2 linked regions of the Homo sapiens genome follow. The protein of the gene in region 1 purifies or fractionates together with the protein of each later gene. This does not show direct contact. Each region holds a gene or a part of one and is shown on either strand. Other genes may lie near its edges. The genes, in order: GRTP1 and MINDY1.

Region 1 (7,265 bases):
TGAAAAATGCATTTAAAGTCTCTGTTTTGTGGTTTTTTGGATGAATTTTTTTATTTTTTATGACAGGTGTCAGTCTGTTACCCAGACTGGAGTGTAGTGGTGCGGTCACAGTGACAGCTCACTTCAGCCGTGACCTACCAGGCTCAAGCGATCCTCCTGCCTCAGCCTCCTGCGTAGCTGGAAGTGGTCTGAACCACAGGTGTGCACCACCACACCTGGCTCATTTTTTAATTTTTATTTTTTTGCAGAGATGGGGTTTTGGTCTTGAACTCCCGGGCTCTGAGGATTCGCCCTCCTTCACCTCCCAAAGTGCTAGGGTTACAGGAGTGAGCCACCCACCTGGCTGAATTGTTTTTTAAATTATGGTAAAATATGCCTAATATAAAATTTACCATTTCATTTTCCCAAGCTGAAGCTCTTGGGAGCTTCCCCATTGTTAAGCACTGAACCCCATGTCCTCACCCAGCCCCTGGCAATCCCGCTGTGCGCTTGTCTCTGTGCCATCCCCATTGTCAAGCACCGACCCCCGTGTCCTTGCCCAGCCCCTGGCAGTCCCACTGTACGCTTGTCTCCGTGCTTTGGCAACTCCAGGGTCACATAAGAGGAGTCCCGTGGGCTGCGTCCTCTGCAGCTGGGGTCCTTTCCCTCGCCTCAGTCCTCAGGGATCCTCTGTACTGCATCTTGTGTGACAATTTCCTCCTTCTTTAAGGGTGAATAATATTCCACGCATGGGCAGACTACATTTTGTTCATTTATCCATCTATCAGTGGACCCCTGGGCTCTCCTGCCGCACGGCTGTTATGGGTGGCATGGCCGTGAGCCTGGGTATGTGGATTCTGCTGGGTCCCTGCTTTCAGCTGTGGGTTCCTACCCAGAGTGTGGATTCTGCTGGGTCCCTGCTTTCAGCTGTGGGTTCCTACCCAGAGTGTGGGGCTGGGCCCCTGCTTTCAGCTGTGGGTTCCTACCCAGAGTGTGGGGCTGGGTCCCTGCTTTCAGCTGTGGGTTCCTACCCAGAGTGTGGGGCTGGGTCCCTGCTTTCAGCTGTGGGTTCCTACCCAGAGTGTGGGGCTGGGTCCCTGCTTTCAGCTGTGGGTTCCTACCCAGAGTGTGGGGCTGGGTCCCTGCTTTCAGCTGTGGGCTCCTACCTAGAGTGGACTCTGCTGGGTCCCTGCTTTCAGCTGTGGGCTCCTACCCAGAGTGTGGATTCTACTGGGTCCCTGCTTTCAGCTGTGGGCTCCTACCTAGAGTGTGGGGCTGCTGGATCCATGACAGTTCTGTGCTTAGTAATTGGAGCCACCTGGTCAGTTATCTTTCAGGAGCCATGCAGTGGATGGTCCAGTCCCACAGAGCCAATGCCAGGCCACGCAGTGCAGACAGAAAGCTCCCATGCTCTTCTGTCTCCACAATGGAGATGGAGCCATCTCCTTTCCCACAGGATGTTATCAAAACATATCAAGAAACTTAGTGTGGTGGCTCACGCCTGTAATCCCAGCACTTCGGGAAGCTGAGGCAGGCGGATTAGTTGAGCTCAGGAGTTCAAGACCAGCCTGGCCACCATGGCAAAACTCTGTCTTTACAAAACAATACGTAAATTAGCCCAGGCATGGTGGTGTGTGCCTGTAGTCTCAGCTACTCAGGAAGCTGAGGTGGGAGGATCGCTTGAGCCCTGGAGGTCGAGGATGCAGTGAGCCGTGATTGCACCTCTGCACTCCAGCCTGGGTGACAGAGTGAGACCCTGTGTTAAATATATATATAAATATATATATATATATAAAATATATATAAATATATATATAAAATATATATAAAAATATATATAAAATATATATAAAATATATATAAATATATATAAATATATATAAAAATATAAAAATATATAAATATATATAAATATATATATAAATATAGAAAACTCAATAAAAATATTACATATAAATGAACACAGCTGGTCACTCTAGTCTGAAATAGCAAAAATACTAACTTCCCCTTGACTGATTCCATTTTTTGGAATGTTTAGAATTCCAGAAAAAAAAAAAGGCTCTTTTGTAAGAAAACACACAATGAGAAATAATGTGCTCTGAGGCATTGAACTAATGTTGGCCCAAATCTAGTTTTTTGTAAGCAAAGATAAGGCCTGGGGCCAGAGGTCGGAAACAGACTTACAGTATTTTGCAGCCGTTGTGGAGAGACCACAGGCGGTTGGGTTCCTCCAGAGCTGGGTGTACACCCATCTCAGCGTCATGGCTGGCGGGGACTGCTGTGAGTCCATCTTGGAACTTGTGCAGAAAGCGGCTGTCTGCTGGTGACCGCATGGGGTGCCTGGCGAACACCTCTAACAGAGGTAGGGCCAGTGGGAGCAGAAACCAGTGGAGTTGTCAAGCCGGCATTATCCTTCCTGCTCGGCTTGTGTCCAGGGTTAACGCGGAGGTCAGCTTCAGTGAGGCCTGGCACTTGGTCAGCGTGAGGCTTGGTTAGTCTCAGGGACCCACGTGGTATCCGGGTCCCCCAGCACTAAACAGCTTGGCCAAGGCCACACTGTCCTGCCAAGAGATGCCTGGGCGGGACAGTGGGAGGGGTTGGTGCTGAGGAAGGAAGAGGCCGGCAGGGATGCCTCCTGCACACACAAGCTGACAACTCGAGGTTTATTCAGTTCTCAGCTCTCAGCTCTCAGCCGTGTCCTTTATCTCTGAGGAGTCTCAATTTATTCTGTCTCCTTCTGTTTTGGATCTTTGAAATTAGGAAAACACCTCAAAGTTTTGTGTGCATTTCTCTCCACCTGTCACCCTGGGTCCTCGAGGCAGAGTTGCCTCCGCTACGCGCGAGGTCCGAGGTGCAGGAGGCCTGTGCTGGGGGCCGGGAGGAGACGGGCATTGAGGAGGGAGTGCCATGGCCTGGCCACCAGCTCTGGGGTCGCTCTGCTGTCCCTGACTCTGCGGGAAGGACGGTTAGGGCCCCTCTCCGCCCCGAGTTCAGGATCACCCCCTCCTTCCTGGCCCAGTGAGCCTGTCGCTCTGGCTGTGTTGAGTCTGCTGTGCGGCCAGGGTGAAAACCAGTCCGTAAGTCCCAAGTGGAACCCAGGTGGCCACCCTCGGGGCAGCTGGAGGGGTGGGAGGCTTGTGGAACAGAAACCCGTGGGTGATTCCTTCTGAATTTCCCACAGACCTGAACCGGACCTTCCCCGACAACGTGAAGTTCCGGAAGACCACGGACCCCTGCTTACAGAGGACCCTGTACAATGTGCTGCTGGCATATGGGCACCATAACCAGGGAGTGGGCTACTGCCAGGTGAGCCTCGGGACCCTCTGACGCCATGAGGTGGCTGTGAGGACAGGTCTGTCCACAGCTGCAGGCTCGGCAGTGACGGCCTCACGTCTCTGTCAACCCTGTTCATGAATTCCACGTCCTGATGCCCCATTGAGGCTCGGACGCCATTTCCCAGCAGGGAGGACAGGGAGCAGCAGCCGACGACCTCATTCCGGCCTCAGGTGGCGGGAGGAGAATCAGCACGGGACACAGAGGGCGAGTGCTGTGGGGTGCGTGCGCTGTGGGGTGTGTGTGCTGTGGGATATGTGTGCTGTGGGGTGTGTGTGCTGTGGGGTGTGTGTGCTGTGGGGTGTGTATGCTGGAAGGCATGTGCACCATGGGGTGTGTGTATGGGATATGTGTGCTGTGGGTGCGTGCGCTGTGGGGTGCGTGCGCTGTGGGATGTGTGTGCTATGGGGTGCATGTGCTGTGAGGTGTGTGTCGTCCTCTGAGGCCACTCCCAGAGTGTCTGCTGTCTACACTGTCATCCCCTGGCTGGCTCCGTGGTGTGAACCAGCAGCTGCAGTTGGGAGAGTCCTTGCGCCTCCCGGAGGCCACCTAGCTGGGCGCATATTAAGGGCATTGCTGTTAGTAACTAGTGGAGTGAACAGGCCGGAATGCAGGGCAACCAGGAGCCGTGCAGTCTCCCAGCCTGTGTGTCCTGCCTGGGCCTGTCGCTGGTGGTGCTGTTCCAGTCTGTCTGAGCTCGCCGAGGGCAGGGCAGGCATCTGGGCAGGGCTGGCCTCCACGAGGGTTTCCAGGTGTGCGCACAGCCCGTGACTGCCTGTGAGTCCCCGTGGCTGAGAGCCTGGAGCCCACGGCTGCCACCGGGATTGGAGAGTGCGTTCCTGGCATTTTAGGCCATGTGCTTCACGGGCTCCTAGGGGTTGTGGCTGGCTTAAACGTTTCTAGGAGGACAGGGAAGGACATCGTCGCGATGGGTGGTTCGAACCTAGCAGTCCCAGTGATGCCCCCAGAAACTTCCTGTAGGAGCCGGGAGCCAGGCGTGCACCAACCAGAAAATGCAGTTTGAGTGAACGTTTGGAGGAGTGTGGAGCCCCTGCCTGGACAGCCCTGGGCCTGGCACCTGGCAGAGTGAATGCTCCCGAGGAGAAAGGGTGGACGTTGCGTGAGGAGCGCCCTGTGAAAGGCCAGCAGCAGAGCCACGGGACCACGCTGTCCTCACCAGCTGTTCCACGTGCTGTGCGTGTGTGGCTCTGTAGCTGGCTGGCAGTGCCGTGTCGGGTGAAGCTGGGAGAGTCCCTCCTTTGCAGACAGAATTCCTGCCATTCCTCACTTTTATGACTGTCCAGGAGCAAGAACGTGGCCTTCTGGAGTTGAGGTAGAATGGGCAAGAAATCCTCTACATCATTCTATTTACTGCTCCTTTGTGTTTTAAAAACAGCTTTATTAAAATGCATACACCAGCCTGGGCAAGGTGGCAAGACTCCATCTCTACAAAATATTTTTAAAAATTAGCGGGGTGTGGTGGCACACGCCTGTGGTCCCGGCTGCTCGAGGGGCTGAGGTGAGAGGGTCGTTTGGGTCTGGGAGGTCAAGCCTGCAGTGAGCCATGTTGGCACCACTACACTCCAGCCTGGGCAACAGAGCAAGACCCTGTCTGAAAAAAACCGAGAAACAAACAAAAAAAAACACCACCCACCTGGGTGGCCCTTGCCTATAATCATGCACTTTGGGAGGTCAAGGCAGGAGGATTGTTTGCTTGAGGCCAAGAGTTCAAGACCAGCCTGGGCAATAGAGCAAGACCCCATCTCTATTCTTAAAAAACAAGGCACAAACACAATGTTACATACTAACAGAATGCCAGAGCACAGCTGGCTTTTGGAACCTACAGGCACATACGTACATGTGTGTGCGGAGATGTGCACCTGTTAGCTTGCTGTGGGCCCCTAAGGAAATGCCACAGCCTGGTAAACAGTGGAAACGAATTCTCTCTCAGCTCTGGAAGCTGTGCATCAGAGGTCGCGGCATCTGCGGGGCAGGTGAGGTCGCGGCGTCTGCGGGGCGGGTTCTTTCTGAGGCTGTGACGGACGGACTGTCCCAGGCCTTGCCCTGGTTCTGCTGGTTCCTGGCAGTCCTGGGTGCCCCTCGGCGGGTGGCATCACTACTCCAATCTCTGCCTCCATCTCCATGTGCGTTCTCCTGTGCATGCCTGTGTCTAAAGCTCCACGTAAGACAAGGACACCAGGCTTGGATAGGGCCCACCAACTCCTCCATGACCCCATCCGTAATGACATCTGCAACAGTCTTTTTCCCAAACAAGGTCCCAATCTGAGGTACTAGGGGTTAGGACTTCAACAGATGAATTTTGGGGCGGGCAACACAGTTCAATGTGTGGCATATGTGTAGAGTTACACAGTGCACACGGTCTCGCTCTGTCACCCAGGCTGGAGTGCAGTGGCGTGATCTCGGCTCACTGCAGCCTCAACCTCCTTTGCTCAAGCGATTTTCCCACCTTGGCCTCCTGAGTAGCTGGGACCACAGGTGCGCCACCACGCTCGAGTAATTTTTGTATGTTTTGTAGAGATCGGGGTTTTGCCACATTGCCCAGGCTGGTCTTGAACTCCTGAGCTCAGGCGATCCTCCTGCCTCTACCTCTCACAGTGCTGGGATCCCCCACTGTGCCTGGCTATGTTCTGCTTTTTCTCCACGATGATCACCCACCTGCATTTCCATGTGTCCACACTGTCCACATGGTCGCCCTCTCCCAGGTCCAGTAGCACTGTCCACTCAAAGGGGTCCATTCTCAGCCACGGAGATCCTCCCGGGTCCACTCGGCCAGACAGGTCCTCCCAGGTCCGCTCAGCCACACAGGTCCTCCCAGGTCTGCTCTCGGCCACAGAGGTCCTCCCGGGTCCGCTCTCGGCCTCAGAGGTCCTCCCAGGTCCGTTCTTGGCCACAGAGGTCCTCCCGGGTCTGCTCTCGGCTTCAGAGGTCCTCCCGGATCTGTTCTTGGCCACAGAGGTCCTCCCGGGTCTGCTCTCTGCCACAGAGGTCCTCCCAGATCCGCTCAGCCACAGAGGTCCTCCCGGGTCTGCTCTCGGCTTCAGAGGTCCTCCCGGATCTGTTCTTGGCCACAGAGGTCCTCCCGGGTCTGCTCTCTGCCACAGAGGTCCTCCCGGGTCTGCTCTCTGCCACAGAGGTCCTCCCAGATCTGCTCAGCCACAGAGGTCCTCCCAGGTCCGCTCTCAGCCACAGAGGTCCTCCCGGGTCTGTTCTCAGCCACAGAGGTCCTCCTGGGTCTGCTCTCTGCCACAGAGGTCCTCCCGGATCCGCTCAGCCACAGAGGTGCTCCTGGGTCCGCTCTCGGCCACAGAGGTCCTCCCAGGTCTGCTCTCGGCCACAGAGATCCTCCTGGGTCTGCTCTCAGCCACAGAGGTCCTCCCGGGTCCACTGTCAGCCACAGAGGTCCTCCCGGGTCTGCTCTCGGCTTCAGAGGTCCTCCCGGATCTGTTCTTGGCCACAGAGGTCCTCCCGGGTCTGCTCTCTGCCACAGAGGTCCTCCCAGATCCGCTCAGCCACAGAGGTCCTCCCGGGTCTGCTCTCAGCCACAGAGGTCCTCCCAGGTCCGCTCTCAGCCACAGAGGTCCTCCTGGGTCTGCTCTCGGCCACAGAGGTCCTCCTGGGTCTGCTCTCTGCCACAGAGGTCCTCCCGGGTCTGCTCTCTGCCACAGAGGTCCTCCCGGGTCTGCTCTCTGCCACAGAGGTCCTCCCGGGTCTGCTCTCTGCCACAGAGGTCCTCCCAGATCCGCTCAGCCACAGAGGTCCTCCCAGGTCCGCTCTCAGCCACAGAGGTCCTCCCGGGTCCGCTCTCAGCCACAGAGGTCCTCCCGGGTCTGCTCTCTGCCACAGAGGTCCTCCCAGATCCGCTCAGCCACAGAGGTCCTCCCAGGTCCGCTCTCAGCCACAGAGGTCCTCCCGGGTCCACTGTCAGGCACAGA
Region 2 (7,803 bases), on another chromosome or scaffold:
CATTTTTTTTCCCCAGAAACTACCTAAACCCAGAGGTACTCTCTTGCCTGCTATTTCTATGAAATATGAAAATGCTGATTATTAATTTACATAACAATACTTCCTGTACATTCACCTACCTAAAGTTTTATGTCTATTCCCATCCAAGTGGTTTTATTTATTTATTTTTATTTTTTTGAGACAGAGTTTTGCTCTTGTTGCCTAGGTTGGAGTGCAATGGTGCGACCTCGGCTCACTGCAACCTCTGCCTCCTGGGTTCAAGTGATTCTCCTGCCTCAGCCTCCCGAGTAGCTGGGATTACAGGCATGCAACACCATGCCCAGCTAATTTTGTATTTTTTAGTAGAGATGGAGTTTCTCCATGTTGGTCAGGCTGGTCTTGAACTTCCGACCTCAGGTGATCCTCCCACCTTGGCCTCCCAAAGTGCTGGGATTACAGGCATGAGCCACCGTGCCCAGTCCTCTCCAGGTCATTTTAGATGTGAACACCGGACCTGTTTAACCTGTTCTCTATCAGCACTGGAGGCACATTGAGGCAAGCACAGATAGACATTTAACTAATACTGTGGGTATAAATAATAAAAAACCACAAATCCTGCCCTTTGGAAAACATCTCCCTTCAATCTCCTTGCTCCCCTCCCACTCTTTATCAGGGAGAGAAACAGGGAGAAATTAAACTAGTTAGGGGCCAGGCGCGGTGGCTCACGCCTGTAATCCCAGCACTTTGAGAGGCTGAGGCGGGCAGATTACTTGAGGTCAGGAGATCGAGACCATCCTGGCTAACATGGCAAAACGCTGTCTGTATTGAAAGTACAAAAATTAGCCAGGTGTGTTGGCACGTGCCTGTAGTCACAGCTGCTCGGGAGGCTGAGGTGGGAGAATTGCTTGAACCTGGGAGGCAGGGGGTTGCAGTGAGCTGAGATGGTGACACTGCACTACAGCCTGGGTGACAGAGCGAAACTCCATCTCAAAAATAAAATAAAATAAAATAAAATAAAATAAAATAAAATAAAATAAAATAAAATAAATTAAACTAGTTAGAAATCTTGTCTTTTCTCCACCCTCCTCCCAGCCTGAGACTGCTTCCTTCTTGTAAACCTACAGGAATTTGGGGCTAGGGGAAGGCCTGGGAGATGAGGTTGAGGAACATTAAAGTTACTGAAACAAAATAAGCCTAGTCACTCAAATTGATTATCCTCTTGATTCACATATGTTTATGCTAGCTGCATATCATTTACGTGTTGTTAATTTAGAATCAGAGTAGCAAAAATTGCCTGCAGGCCTTATGCTTTTTTTTCTCTCTCTTTCTCTCTCTCCTTTCCTTCTCCCCTTAAATGACACTTAGGGTGAACCTCAAAGCAGATGCCAGAGCCTGGAAAAGTGAAAAAGCTTGAAGAAAAGCAGGCCTTGGCCGGGCACAGTGCCTCACACCTGTATCCCAGCACTTTGAGAGGCCGAGGCGGGCGGATCACCTGAGGTCAGGAGCTCAAGATCGGCCTGGCTAACATGGCGAAACCCCATCTCTACTAAAAATACAAAAATTAGCCGGGCACGGTGGCGGGCACCTGTAATCCCAGCTACTCAGGAGGCTGAGGCAGGAGAATTGCTTGAACCCCGGAGGTGGAGGTTGCAGTAAGCCAAGATTGTGCCTCTGCACTCCAGCCTGGGTGACAAGAGTGAGACTCTTGCCTCCAAAAAAAAAAAGAAAAAAAGAAAAAAAAAAAAGAAAAGCAGGCCTTATTTTTTATATTTTCTCTCCAGTGCCAGAAATGATCAATGATGAAGTGGGGGTTGGGCAGCTAGCTGGCTGGAGAGGTGAGCCAAAGGAACCCAGGAGTGGACACCTGAGGGAGTGGGGTCTCAGAGGAACTGGGCAGAGCTAAATGGGCTAAGTCTTAAGAGGCAGGGGCAGGAAATGTAATGGAGGCTTTCTACTCTACAACGTCCAATCCTGCTGGGGAGGGCATGGAGTATTTCAGAGTAGGAAAGAATGAGGGAGAGGATAGTCAGATAAATCAAAGTTTCATTCTTTTCCTCCTCTTTCTTAGCTCGTCAAATCCTACACTTTCTCTCCAGCTGGAATTATGGTGGTGAGTGAGGGAGTTAAAATAATCCTGGCTCCTCCCTAATCAATGGCAGTAGAGAGCCGAAAGTTGGAAGAAGCACGTAAAACAGGTATGTAGCTTCAAGAAGACACTCCTTCTCTGTAGGAACAGTTCCCTTACTGTCTCACACCAATCTCCTTCTTAGTCTGACCTATGTCTTTGTGCAATCAATAGTTTAGATTTTCATCTCAGAATATGTCAACCATGGCCACAGTGCCCTGTATACTTGCTCACAAGGAGAGGGGGAAGGTTTCGTGCTTTCATTAAAAGGAGGAGGACCAAGCAGCATCCCCTTTACATGTCTCTCCTGACTTAGCTCCTCTAAGCAATCCAGACTTGCAGACCAAAGGTGGAAGGACAGCAGGTGTCAGCTCCCCAAAGCTGGAGAGGAAATAGAGAAGGGTGGGAGAAGAGGTGAAGAAGATGATTAAAATAAAGTTTTTACCTTAAAGAAGGGGGTGCTGTTCCAAGATTGAGAAGGAGGGTTCAGCCGTGGCAATGAGATGGGGGAGATAGGTGCAATGAAGGGGGCTGCCAGTGCCAGCTGCCTTCCAGCTGTCAACGCCTGAGCTTATACAGGTTTACACAGCTTTATAAGCGACGGTCCAGGCTGGGTTGTGGCCACTTCCGGACTCACGCCCAGTACTGGGGGCACTGGAGGAGGGTGAAGGCAGGCAGGGACACAGCCAAGGTGCTCCAGGTCGCTCAGAGAGTCTTCAGGATTCCTGAGTCGCCGAGTCTATGGCATGCGCTCCGGGCCCTGACTACAAGCTGGTTTTCAAAGGAAGTTTGTGGTTTTTCTTTTCTTCTCTCTCTCTTTTTTGTTCTCATCAGGACGAAGAAAAATTAGGCAAGGACAAGCTCCCTGGAGGAGGAGGGGCCTGCCCAGCGCTGGTGGATTTCCATCAGGACTTTCTGACCCGGTCAGCAGCTTTGTGATCAGCAGAGAGGGAGCGAGAAACAGGAGAGAAAAACAACAGACCCTTTCTCTTCCCTCTGCCTGCCTCTAGAAGGGACGGAGCGCTTGTGCCTCTCTGGTGAGAATAGGGAAGAGCAAGTGCCCTTGCTAAGTAGGGAGGAGAAGGGCTGGACAGAAGCAGCTTGTTGGATCTGGGCTCTCTCTCTGGGTATGGCAGTCCTTTGCTCTGGATCCACAGAAGCAGGAGCAAAGAGCACGATATTTGCATGTATTACTCAATTAATGTTAAAAACAAACAAACAAACCCAGCTCTTTTCCCTCTGGAGCCCTCCAGAGAGCTCCTTTCCAAGTCCTTGCTGTATCATTTTTAAGTCTAGAAATGAAACTGGTTGGGTTGTGCACCTGGTAGAGTGCAGAGGGTGTGGTAGAAGCCCCAGGCTCTGGGCGCGATGGCTGACGCCTGTAATCCCAGCACTTTGGGAAGCCAAGGCGGGCGGATCACAAGGTCAAGAGATCAAGACCAACCTGGCCAACATAGTGAAACCCCATCTCTACTAAAAATACAAAAATTAGCAGGGCATGGTGGCACATGCCTGTAGTCCCAGCTACTCGGGAGGCTGAGGCAGGAGAATCGCTTGAACCCGGGAGGTGGAGGTTGCAGTGAGCCAAGATCCTGCCACTGCACTCCAGCCTGAAGACGGAGCAAGACTCCGTCTCAAAAAGAAGAAGAAGAAGAAAAGAACTGGCAGAGCAGGCAGGAGATCCAACACGCCTGTGCTCTGGATCTTGGTTCCACTGCAGGCCTCTCATCAGTCACCTCCTCTCGATTTACAGCTGGGGAAGCAGGAAAAGCTGGTGTGAGGCTGACGGTAGGAAATAAAGGGATAGATAAATAAATGAGGGAATTTTTGATGATGAGTGTCCATTTATTTGCAGTACCTGCACTACTCTGCGGCTGGAAAGTGGCAGTTAAGGGAGGTTGGAACCTAACTCCACATTCTGAAGGGTTCCCTAAACTCTATGTACAGGGCCGCCACAGGATGAAATTTCAAGCAACTCTAAAGGCTGAAAGAGCAATTGGAACAATTAGGGTGGCAGAGAGCAAAAAGCCAAGGTTACAACCGTCCAAGAAAGGAAGAAGATATTTGCCGAGGCTGTAGAAAAAAACAGGCTACAGAGTTGCAAAGGGAGAAGCAGCAGGAGTTGGCAGGAGACTGTAGGTGTTAACAAGAGGGGTCAAAGATTATTCTAATGTTCTCCTAACATGAACAACCACAAAATTGGTGGCGACTGAGTCAGTTTGGTAAAGGGCAGAATTTGTAGAAAGAAGATGATCTGTTTTGCCAAGTGTCATTTAAAATGTCACCAGATGCTCGGTGTGATATATGTAAAGATGTTATACTTGGCCTGATCTGAGAGGGAAAGTTCAGATGCCACAATAATGGGTTACTGTGACACATACACATTTGTTTACCGAACGACTGATCCCTCAGAAAACAATCCTTCCCTCGGTTGCTAGGGACATTGCGGAGTTGCGGGACTACGTTTCCCACGTCGCCCCACGCCACGCCCCCTTGGCCTCGCCGGAAAGACGTCCCAGGAGCCTCTGGGCGTAGAGCCCCGCCTCCGCCGCTGGGGGCGGGGCGACGCCGGACTCCGGAGCGCCCGCTTACGCAGTTCCTCCCGGGGTCGGAGGCCGATTCGCCGTGTGGCGGGTTCGAGTCCCGCCTCCTGACTCTGGCCTCTAGTCCCTGAGTCCCGGGCGGGCTGCATTCGTCGGGGAAACCTCTCCTCGACCAGGGGCACCTCTACTCGACCAGGGGCGACGGCGTACTTTGGGCTTCATCATGGAGGACTACCTGCAGGGTTGTCGAGCTGCTCTGCAGGTAACGAATCCCTGTCTGTGACTGTAAGGAATGGAGCACGGGGTCCAGGAAGGACGAAGACGTGGGATCTGGGGGAGCCTCGACGGTCCGTGTGGAGGGAACACTGAGTTGTGGGGAGGGGGGTTGGGGCCTGATCAGTTTTGGGGCATGAGGAGCGAGGAGCGAGAAGCCAGTTTAGGAGCGTGAGAATGCTGCTTGTTCAGTCTCCCGGTTTTTGGCTCCCCGCCTTTGGGGTCCGCCTGAGAGCGGGGAGAAGTCTTGGGTCTGAATCCTGCATTTGAGCCTCTGCTTGCTGTCATCTTGGTCAGTTCCATCAAAAAAACCAGGACTGTGCCGCCGCCAGCCTAGCCCCGCGAGGTGTGTTTATTCTTTTCTCCCCGCCCCTCTTTGAGTTCTCCGCTCCCAAGGCTTCGCTTGGCCCACTGGCCTCCAGGTGAACCTCGGGGGTGTGGAGGGAACCGGTGCTCACGGCCTTATTTCCTCCGAATGGCAGTTTCTGTCTGGCGGGCTGAACTCATTTCTAGGTTAGAAGTAGTCACAGTATTTTACTTTAAGTCAGTGTTTTTAAGCCAAACATACAAAATCCATCAGGCATATTTGTTGACCCACAACCAGCATTCCTTTGCCTCCAGGTTTCTCCTTTGGCCTTAACGCACACAAATGACATAAAAATTCTCCACTTGGAAGGGATAAGCACAAAGTGTGTTTGGAATCAAAACCATAAATATGACTACTCAATGCTTTGTGGCTTATTTTTGGTGCTCTCTGACTCAGTTGGACTCACCCAGCCATGCTGAGCCGTCATGAGGCATTAGGCTGTTATCCCCAGTTAGCAGCAAAAAGCTAACCAGAGACAGGCTCCAGGAGGTCACCCGGCCCCTCTACTTTGAGTTATACTGCCCTGAAGAAACCTAGATAGATGGCTTGCTGAGCTTTCCTTTTTAGATATCTTAAACTCTACAAATTCCCCTGAGGGACAGATTCTGGTCTTTAACAAATCCTGAAAGTCACTAATTCCTGCTGCAGACTCAGCTGCTGGAATAAATGAATTGTCTTCATATTGAATTGGGGAGAAGGTCCATTTTAACACCAATTACATAGACATTTTCCTTGTGAAAAACAAATTTGGGGAGTTATTTCAATGCATAAGGCCATTTGGAACCAATCCCTTTTTGTTACCTCTGAGTCCACCACAGGGCGCTTATTGGAGGACTAATGTAGAGTTTTTGGGGCACCGTTCTAAGTGCTAAACAGTTGGATTTTACCCCCCAGTAACCCAAATGACTGGTCTCTTCCACCATTTGGTAAAGTGCCCTTGGACCTGAAACCTCACCAAATAGTATTTCTTTGCATGCATCTACTCTCCAGCATATATCCTCCAGAGCCTCCCCCGACCCCCAGGTTAGTAGTATATTCTCTATTTTTATTTTGTATTTGTTTATTTATTTTCAGCCAGGGTCTCACTCTGTTGCCCTGGCTGGAGTGCAATGGTGTGATCACCTCCCCGGCTCAAGTGATCCTCCCACCTCAGCCTCCCGAAAAAGCTGCGACTATAGGCAGTGCCACCACGCAGGGCTAATTTTTTGTATTTTTATAGAGACAGGGTCTCGCCATGCTGCCCAATCTGGTTTCAAACTCCTGGACTCAAACAATCCCCCTGGCTTGGCTTCCCAAGGTGTTGGAATTACAGGTGTTAGCCACTGTACCCAGCCCGAATAGTATATTCTCTACAGCAATATGAAGCTGGAAAAATACTTGATTTTTCCAATACTGCTGGCATCTCGACCTTTCTCTCCCTGCATTCATCCCCCAAGGAGCAAGATCTAGATCTTCCTTTCAAACTTGTGAACTTGTGAAAGGTGAGATTGTGTCTTAGAGCTTGCATCATCACATAGCCTCTCCAGGGCCTGGAGAAATGAGAAAATTAGACTCTAGGAAGGTTAACAGGGGAACTGATGGCAAGACATACTGGTAGATGCCAACAATTTAAATTGCTTTAATTTTTTTTTTTTTTTTTTTGAGATAGACTCACTCTGTCGCCCAGGCTGGAGTAGGCTCACTGCAACCTCCACTTCCCGAATTCAAGCGATTCTTCTGCCTCAGCCTCCTGAGTAGCTGGGATTACAAGTGTGCGCCACTATGCCTGGCTAAGTTTTGTATTTTTAGTAGAGACAGGGTGTCACCATGTTGGACAGGCTGGTCTTGAACTCCTGACCTCAAGTGATATGCCTGCCTTGGTCTCCCAAAGTGCTGGGATTATAGGCATGAGCCACCACACCCAGCCTAGATTGCTTTAAATTATAGAAGTAGTAAATGTGTATTTCATGAACAAATTTAAATACCAAAGGGATATGAAATGAAAAAGATAAAGATCATTTTTCTTTTCTCCTCTCCATCCAGTTCTCCAGAGGACACCGTTAAGTTTCTTGTGTAAAGAGAGAGAGGTGATTTAGACAGATACACTCTTAAGTTTGAATGTTTCTGTTAAACTACAGTTTAATTATAACTTTCAGAAAATCATGAATGCTCCTCTTTGTGCAGGATAAAGACAGCTGGTAATCCAGCCAAGTCTCCCGTTGCTACCATATTTTTAGTATTTGATACCACAGAAATTTTCTATAGCCTCTGCCACAGAGACAATAGGATGTTCCATTAAAAAAAAATCATTTAACCAAATGTCCTATTTATGGTGACTCATCTTTCACTTCTGAGGGGAGAAATCTTTGCTTCAGGGTGGGGCTGCATTGCAGTTTAGGTGTTCATCCAGGACCCCTTGGATAATGTAGTGTGTGCAGTTCTCAGGCATGAGGCAGGAATCAGGAGCTGGCTCTCCTTAGAAATTTGCAGTCCTGGCATCAGTATTGTTCCTGTTTTCTCTGCTGAGAGGGTTTGTC

What was found.
Region 2: the proteins of GRTP1 (region 1) and MINDY1 purify together in Homo sapiens (affinity purification with mass spectrometry; 2 studies listed by BioGRID and IntAct, with this or other methods). This does not show direct contact.

The regions. Positions count from the first base shown.
Region 1 is NC_000013.11:113,346,869-113,354,133, reverse strand, and holds part of GRTP1 (growth hormone-regulated TBC protein 1), read left to right. Parts: intron 1-2,163; exon of another isoform or gene 2,164-2,461; intron 2,462-3,160; coding exon 3,161-3,285; intron 3,286-5,882; exon of another isoform or gene 5,883-5,955; coding exon of another isoform or gene 5,956-6,318; intron 6,319-7,148; coding exon of another isoform or gene 7,149-7,265. Other genes in the region: MAGE-like protein 2, read left to right, coding at 5,956-6,318, 7,149-7,265. UniProt on the Homo sapiens protein: May act as a GTPase-activating protein for Rab family protein(s).
Region 2 is NC_000001.11:151,003,763-151,011,565, forward strand, and holds the start of MINDY1 (ubiquitin carboxyl-terminal hydrolase MINDY-1), read right to left. Parts: upstream 3,141-7,803; 5' UTR 2,550-3,140; intron 2,544-2,549; exon of another isoform or gene 2,394-2,543; coding exon of another isoform or gene 2,339-2,393; intron 1-2,338. Other genes in the region: exopolyphosphatase PRUNE1, read left to right, coding at 4,871-4,909. UniProt on the Homo sapiens protein: Hydrolase that can specifically remove 'Lys-48'-linked conjugated ubiquitin from proteins. Has exodeubiquitinase activity and has a preference for long polyubiquitin chains. May play a regulatory role at the level of protein turnover.